Linked DNA regions of Homo sapiens: regions 1 and 2 are each linked to region 3. Evidence: fine-mapped expression QTL. A gene starts in region 3. Each other region holds a variant in brackets. All regions are shown on one strand. Distances are between the middles of the regions. Region 1 overlaps FCRL6 (Fc receptor like 6). Region 2 overlaps ATP1A4 (ATPase Na+/K+ transporting subunit alpha 4). Region 3 holds the start of SLAMF8 (SLAM family member 8).

What was found.
Region 1: its variant is fine-mapped to the expression of SLAMF8 in whole blood (INTERVAL, PIP 0.94).
Region 2: its variant is fine-mapped to the expression of SLAMF8 in macrophages (Nedelec 2016, PIP 0.90).

What each region holds. Positions count from the first base shown.
Region 1 is chr1:159,802,566-159,805,325 of GRCh38, reverse strand. All of the region lies in intron 1 of FCRL6 (Fc receptor like 6), which reads right to left. It overlaps LOC105371464 (a long non-coding RNA gene), which reads left to right. Exons shown (of 3, transcript XR_922195.2): 1 at 1-2,760. Among named protein-coding and RNA genes, the nearest start is that of FCRL6, 1.6 kb to the right of the region's middle. The variant A/G (reference allele first, on the strand shown) is at 1,234.
Region 2 is chr1:160,161,976-160,164,735 of GRCh38, reverse strand. ATP1A4 (ATPase Na+/K+ transporting subunit alpha 4) reads right to left here. Exons shown (of 22, transcript NM_144699.4): 7 at 312-580. Among named protein-coding and RNA genes, the nearest start is that of ATP1A4, 12 kb to the right of the region's middle. RefSeq lists an enhancer at 2,228-2,317. The variant G/A (reference allele first, on the strand shown) is at 1,623.
Region 3 is chr1:159,825,306-159,828,065 of GRCh38, reverse strand. SLAMF8 (SLAM family member 8) reads right to left here and starts at 1,193. Exons shown (of 5, transcript NM_020125.3): 1 at 1,128-1,193. The coding sequence starts at 1,167.

The DNA.
Region 1 (2,760 bases), 23 kb after region 3:
TAAGAGCAGATGTTTGGCTCTGTCACATGGTATCATCTTTGCTTTCTACACTACTTTGGACACAGGTGGAATCTTTCAGCTCAATTCTCTATTCAGCTCAGGGTCAGCTCAGTCATATGCTCTCAAGAGTGTGCAGAACAATGAGTCTCTTCTTTATCATCCCTCCATCTCCACCCCTAACCCCCATCTATGAGCTCGGTGTAGTGGAAAGCATGCAGGATTTGGAATCAGATGACCTGGACTTGAGTCATGAATTTGCCTCTTTCTGTACGACCTTGAACAAGTTGTCTAAGTTCCAAGAGCCTTCAATATCTCATTCTGTCATATCACATAATAGAAATGATAATAGTCATTTTTTTCTTACAGTGTAGTTGTGAAGGTTATGTTGACCCACTGCCTGGGAAAGTGGTTACTACATTAACTGAAAGCAGAAAGAAGGCCTGACCTCAGAGTGACAGAGACCTTACTCTGTAGTTATGTCTTCCTTCCCTTCCCCACCTCACTGGAAAACAATTGTGCAGCTACAAAGTGCTAAACAAACAGGGTTGAGACTACTGAAGCCAAAAACAAGACAGAAGGCACTCAGGAAGCATAGATGCACTTAAAATGAGCTCCTGTCCCCAAATCTCAATGACTTGCTCCCCATGGTACTGCAAGATCTTGGAGGTGGGATTACAAAATTGGTTTCTGCAATCAAAACAGCAGCCAACTGGGAACATACACAGGGGGTGACACCTGCTTACAGCAGTTCCTGCAATGAGGGCCCAGGGACCTCCATTAGCTATAGGCTGAAGATGAGGTGACAGTATCATGAAGTGGCCAAGAGCTATGGTCAAACCAAGTTGCGTAATAGAATTCCGAAAAATGAAGGCAGGAGCCCCTGCCAACTCTAGGAGCAGGATAATTTCCTCTTAAAGTTTCTGAGGGATCGGGAGATATTTATCTGGGAAAGATGCAACAGAGGAAAGACACAAAATACTTGGTGGGCTAAGCTTAAAAGAAGGGGGAGACTTATTCTGAGTTACTTTATAGGACAGAAATGGAAACTAGAGGGATCATGGAGGCAGATTTCGGCTCAACATGAAGAACTCTCTCACCACTGAGCTCTAGCACTGTGGAACAGGCTGCAGTGCCAAGCTGCAGCAGTCACATTGCTGGGAGGGCTGTATGGGACCCCATGACACCTCCTATGGACGCTGTGTGAGAATGCGGGGAGCAGCCTCCAGTGGTAGG[A/G]GGGAAGTTGGCTAATGTTCAGCTCAGAAGAAAATTAAGCCTAATTTCCCAAACTTTAAATACATATTTCACATTCAGCCAGGTCCCCACATGCTCAATGTCAGGATTCCTTTCCTCCCGGAGCCCTGACAGCCAATAATAGTAATAGCCACCAATTTATTATGACCACACCCTGCTCTTGAGAGAGGAAATAGCAGCTCTACACTTATGGTAAGATAAATGTTGCTACACACCCAGCCCCAGTGTCTGTGTTTTAGGCTGTTTTTCCAGGGTCCCTGAGCATCAAGTGGGACCAAATTTGCTGGTGCTGGATTCTCCATTACACTGTGCACCAGTCAGCCGGTCACTGATTCCCTTCCTCTCCTCATTTGCTGTCTGTCATCCTCGTCCTGGGTTCCAAGCTGGAACACTCTCAGACTGTATCTAGACAAGTCCAAGGGCTGTTCCTTTTACAAGGTAGTGCCGGTAGTGCCATTTGCCCCTGGGAGTCTTCTGCCTGGAGTATATCCAGGCATTAGGCTATCCTGTCCCCGCCTCAGTGTGAGCATTAGACCTTTTCATTTGTCCAAATGGCCATTCATAGAACACACGAGTAGCATGCTATGCTGGAGAAGGAACATTGAGTGGAAGGGGCATTTTCCTCACAGGGTCAAATTCTCACAAACTCTGTCCAGGAAGAGGTTATATTTAGGAACAGTTTTGCTTTTCTAGTTCAAGGAATACAAATAGCAAGCAAGCTATTGGGACCAAGAATTAAACAAAAAGTAGGTCCACTTGGAAACTGTAAAGTGAAACAAAATATATGCCAAATTATTTCTTTTAGGTATAAGGGGGGTGACACTGGCTGAGACTGAGCTGGGTCTGGGGGAGCCCAGTGACCCTCTGCGTGCAATCCTCTACCCTTAGACCAGCTCTCTTAGTTACAAGTAGCCTGCATGAGAAGAAATGGAGAGAAGAGAGAGAGAGACATGGATCAGACAATGGAGTTGATTCTTCAAACCAGCCCCATGGATCTGAAACAGCTCCCAACAGAGAGAAGATGTAGGCGGAAGAGAGACAGTCAATTTGAAAAGGGCTTTGGTTACTCAGAGCACAGGCCTTTCAACCAGGTGAGAGGTCTGGCCATTGTTACCTGGTTCTAAGAAAATGCTGAGGCTCCATAAAAATATGTCACCCTGTAAAATTCCACCTCCCATTGCTGAGCAAAATGCCTGGGACTGTTTCCCCTCATTTCCCTGACTCCTTCCCTGTTGCCCCCAGCAGCCTCCTTCCCTCCTGCAACCTCCATTTCCTTTTGAGACAGCTCTGATTAGTATTTTAACCTGATGTCACAAGGTAGAAATGTCATTGGGAAGTTAGGGGACTTTGTAATGTGATTTTCTGCCTCCCTAATTTATCTCTGACATATCAAAGGGCTGCGCTGCCAAGGACCCAGGACTACGGGGTAGGAAACACTGAGGAGTTTCTCCTACCCCAGTGCCCATCTCTCCCAAGCATGCCCAGGTGCACACACCTGTCTTGAGCTCC
Region 2 (2,760 bases), 340 kb before region 3:
ACTGATGAATAAATTGAGGTCTGGAGATGTTAAGTGATTTAGCCAATACTAGAACTCACTCTCAGTGACTGATAATCCAATGCACTTTCCATTGAAACTTGCTTCCTCTCTCATTGAGGAAAGAGAAGACACCGAAATATATGGGCAGAAGGAGTCAGTGTAATATTGAGAGCTAAATTATTCCTGATACCTATTTACATATCAGGAAGACCCTGCACTTGAAAGGTTCAACAACAAAAGAGACGCTAGTGATCCCTTTTCCCTGGGGTGGTTTGTCTGCCCTGAGGCCATTTTCCACCCTGTCTACTCACAGTGACTGTGGCCAACAGCCCCTCAGGCACATTGGCCACAATGATGCCAATGAGAAAAATGATAGCCTCCAGCCAACCATAGCCCAAGAGAAGTGAGAGCGCAAAAAAAGTGACACCAAGGAAGACGGCCACCACAGTGATCAGATGGATGAAGTGTTCGATCTCAGCAGCGATAGGTGTCTGGCCAACCGCCAGGCCTGACGTCAGGGAGGCAATTCTGCCCATCACTGTGGAGTCTCCCGTAGCAATCACAATACCCCGGGCGGTTCCTGTGGATGAAGCAGGAGAGGGCAATGTGATGTTGTGATATGATAAGAAGTATAGATATTGGTCTCTGCCCCCACTTCCTGACATAGAGCTTCTAAAAACCCTTAAAGATAGGGGTGCTAGGAGAATCTTTTGTTCTAATATTTGGTCTTTGACCCAGTTCTGGACACAGAGCTCCTGAGACCCTTGTAATTTCTTGAGTGATAGGAGTGTCTGACACAGAACTCTTAAATGCCTTGGAGTTTCCTGGGTGATAGGAGTATCTTTGTTCTAATGAGGTGACTCTTGGTGGGTTCCTGGATAGCCACAGGATGGGGCTGGTGGCCAGGGCAGATAACCATGTGATTAGAGAGTTGGAACTTGCAGTTCATGGACTGACCTCTTTGGAAGGGAGGAGGGATGAAGGTTGAGTTGATCACCAATGGCTAATAATGTAACCGATTATACCTATGTAATGAAATCTCCATTAAAAACCTCAAAGGACTGGGTTTGGAAAGTGTCTATGTGTATGACCATGTGGAGGGTTACTGGAGGGCACCCTGGACAGGAGAGGGCACAGACGCTCCTCCATGCTCCTTCCCACGTGCCTTGTCCTGTGCGTCTCTTCCATATGACTGCTCATCTGTATCCTTGTAATATCCTTTATAATAATGGGTAAACCTAAGTAAGGTGTTTCCCTGAGTTCTGTGAGCCATCCTAGCAAATTAATCAAACCTGAGGAGGGAGTCGTGGGAACCCCAATTTATAGCCAGGCCATAACCTAGGACTTGTGACTGGGGTCTAGAGTTAGGGACTGTCTTGTGGGGCTGAGCCCTAACCTGTGGGATCTGATGCTATCTCCAGGTGGATTGTGTCAGAGTTGAATTGAATTATAGGACACCCAATCATTGTCCTTTGGAGAACTGGTTGTTGGTGGGGAGAACTGTCTACACATGTTGGACACAGAAGTGTTCTGTGTTCAGCGTGAGTGTAGAGAAAAAAAAAAGCTGTTTCTTGTTTTTTCCATCAGAGATGGTCACCCAAGACATGCCGAGTCTGAATTGA[G/A]GAAGCTGTTTGGTTTGGTTCCCACAAAGAGCAAGCTGTCAATGGTCAAAAACAAACTGGAGACTCAAGGCCCTCTGAGAGGTCATTATGTTCTGCTCTCCTCATATTTAGTTTATACAAATAAAGGTCTTCTAGTCTGAAAAATCTCTGAAGAGGTCTCACAGTTCTCCTGAAATACCCAATTTTATTGCCTAATTTCCTTCACTGTCAAGAAGGCCTTTATTATACTTAATCTGAGTATCTTCTATTGCCTATATAGTTCTTATCTTGCCCTCAGCAGCTGAGGAGTTTCTAGATCCCAGGAATAGTGGTTACCCTTCTGGTAGAGCCCTATGTTCCAACATCCCCTTATCCCCTAACACAGTGGTTCTCAACTGGAGGCAATCCCTACCCACCAACCCCCTTCCCTGGGGACATTTGGCAATGCTTGGAGACATTTTTGGTGGTCACTACTGGGGTGGGAGAAGGCTCCTACTGGCATGCAGTGGGTAGAGGCCAGGATGCTGTTAAACATCCTGCCACGCACAAGACAGCTCTCCTGTCCCGCACAACAAAGAATTATCCAGCCCCAAATGTGAGTGGTTGAGAAATCCTGCTGTAACTTGCGCCCCCTCCCTGCTTTGCTGGCTGGAGCCAATCTGACCTCTGCTGGGTAGCACGGGCCATAACAGCTGGGCTTCTGTGCTTATGAGGTCCCTCTTTCCTCTCCACCAGCACTGCCCCAGTCAGAAGGGCAGCTTGGACATCATGTTTGGCTTTACACACACATGATGCAGGCCACTCACCTTGAAATGAGGGGCATGACAAAATTCTTTTCTTAAAGTAATTCTTCCTGCTTTACCATAATGACTGAAATTTCTACCATTGAAATCAGAGTCAGAATCACTTAGGCAACATATCACTGAAACTGCATTTATTTTAAAAGCAGAAAGACTCAGGGCCGGAAGTTCAGCTTTCTAAATTACTAGCTCTTTTCCTTGGGGCAAGTTACTTAAATGCTGAGAGTCAGGCTTCCTCATCTTCGAAATGGAATGAAAGCACTTACTAAACTGTGAGGACTGAATATTTTTAAGAGTCTAGAAGGTTAGGTACATCATAGGCACTTGAAAATTAGTTTCTTTCTCTTTCTTCTCATCAT
Region 3 (2,760 bases):
GGTCAGGAGTTTGAGACCAGCCTGGTCAACATGATGAAACCCTGTCTCTACTAAAAATACAAACATTAGCCGGGTTTAGTGGCAGTGACCTGTAATCCCAGCTACTCAGGAGGCTGAGACAGGAGAATCGCTTGAACCCAGGAGGCAGAGGTTACAGTGAGCTGAGATGCACCATTGCATTCCAGCCTGGGTGACAGAGCAAGACTCCGTCTCAAAGAAAAAAAAAAAAGGCAAATTATTTTTGTCTCACCAAACAGACCAAGGCCTTTTTTGAGGTTAAGGTGTGATTTCCTGCACATGTTTAGAAATATTGAAGAAATCTGCAGGCTTTGGAGCTCTCAGGGCCAGGAACTCAGGCAAGGAGATGAAACAAAGCAACCCAAAGTCCCTATGAGCCTCTGATGTAAACAATATCATCTTAATCTTTGCTGCACCCCATAAACCCTCATCCATGGCCCGGCAGTGTTGACCCATGTCATGTTGGCTGCTTGTTGACCAAGGAAGGGAACTCAGGCATCAGATGGATAGAGGGATCGCCCGGTGTGGAGGAGACCCCGTGTATCAGCCATCCCAACATCACACCACCGTCGGCCACCCCTAAGTCCACGTGGGCCACATTTAGCCTCTCTCATCCCTACTTAGTACTTGCCTCCCCTTATAAAGGCCTGTAGGGAGGGACCTCAGCTCCCCCACAGGCTGTTGAAAACACACTCTGCTGATTGTGGGGAACCCTGCTCTGCCCTGCCCTCTGCTACTCTCCTCAAACTCTGCAGAGTTTCTGCATGCTAACACTGCCGGGTCCTCACCATTCTCACAGCCGACTTTCTCTCCAAACCAGCAGTATCACCCACTGGCTCCGTTTTTACTGCTCTGGGCCACAAAACAGCTCATGTCTCACAGATAAGAATACCCCTCAAGCTGCCACCTCCTCCCTCCCAGGACCCTGCATCTCTTTGTATCTGCCTAGCTTAAAATGTTGCCCAAGAGCTTGTTCTAGTCTTTCCTACCCACCCTCAGCTTCTGGGTTCTCACCCAGGTCGAGGGATCCCTGCCCAGACGTCTGGCATAGGCAGCTGGGGAGGGGCCTTCAGCTCTCCGAGGACAGGCTATCTGCCTGCCCCACTTACCTTCCCAGAGAAGCAGACTCCACAGGGGCCTCATGACCATCTTTCTCTGGAGAGGCAGGCAAACTCCCTCGACAGCCAAAATCCAGAACCTCCCAGGCCGAGTGGATGCACGGGAGGAGCTGTGGTCCTTCTGGAAAGTCCCATGTTCAGAAGGAGGAATCTTGACTCAGAACAGGATGTCCCAAAAGTGAAAACATCCAGAATAAAGTGGAAGTTGTCCCTGGGCCTCTCTGGGCTTACAGGAGCAGATTCTTGTAAGTCAGCCTCTTTCACATGCACATGGTTGGCTAACACGTGGCGACAACAGCCCCCACACAAGCCACATCCTCCTTGCTGGATCTCGCTGGCCTTCCTGCATCTCAGCCTGCCTCACTACTATCTGTCATCCTCATTCTAGCTTAAAATGCTTCTGTGGCCTCCCGTGGACCTGAGGATGAGGACTAACTCTGCTCTGCATGCAGGCCCTCCTGAGTCAGGCCTTCTTCTCCAGGCTGGTCGCCCACAGTCATTCTGCCCTCCAGCCATCCCAAGCCAGAAGGCCTCCTTCTCAGAACTACTGATTTCACACTTCCCTGTGTTGTACTTTCCCCACCACCCCGACTAGGCATGCTGCTCCCTCTATCCTTGCAAACAGAACATGGCTGTGCAGTCGGCGAGGACATCCTTCCAGGCTTCCTGACCACAGGCAGGTGAGAGGCCCTCTCCTTGTGTCCTGTGCATGCCCACACCTCCCTCTTTACTCTTGCTGTGTTGTTGATGACAGTTTTCTGGTTTTCACAGACTGTTTAGCCAGTCTTTTGTTCCCTTCTGTGTTGCCCTCAGTGCTTGGCACATTACAGATGTTTCATGAGTATTTGTTAAGTGAGTGAGTACATTCTAGACATGGCTACACATCTGGCTTTATGTAAGCCTTGCAACTCTCCTCTGAGAGGATCATCTTGTTACCTGGTTAGAAATGGGAAAATGTGAAAACCAGAGTGAGGTTAGGCCCCTTGCAGAGCTCACAGAGAGGCAGAGCTGGAACTTGAACCTCAGCCTTTGAAGTGTGGTCTATTTTGCCACAGTTATCCCCTCCTCATCCTGTTTCTCTTCTCACTTCAAGTTTCTTGGTTTCTTGCCAGTGAAGGTTTTTAGAGGACGTGTTGCCCCTGAGGAAAATTCCTGCTAGTCTGGAGTGTGGCTCATCGTATCTGGTCCTGCACAGCCTCTCGCCTGTCAATCAAACTGGACACTGAGCTTTGGACTCAGCCAGGAACTAGGCATATAGGATGGGGTGGGGGTGGGTGGTGAGCAGGAGGATTTTGGGATAAGGTTTTTGCCCTCCAGGTACTCACAACCAAAATGTAGAGATAGGTACACCAAGGAAAGTGAAGGGTTATCTGCAGACAGACACCACTTTGTGCAAACAGGTAGTCAGTCCTCAGAAGTGGGTGGGAAAGAGGGCTTCGCGGATCTGGGCAGGGGACGCTTCTTGAGAAGGTGGAATTTGAGCTGTGCCTTGAAGATGGGCATGGTTTAGATAATATGAGGAAAGGAGAGAGCCAGAGGTTGGGGGTGGGCTCTGGGCAGGAGGGGAGAGCAGAGCGTGCAGGGATGTGGCTGTGGGAAAATACCAAGTAGGCTCCACAGAGGA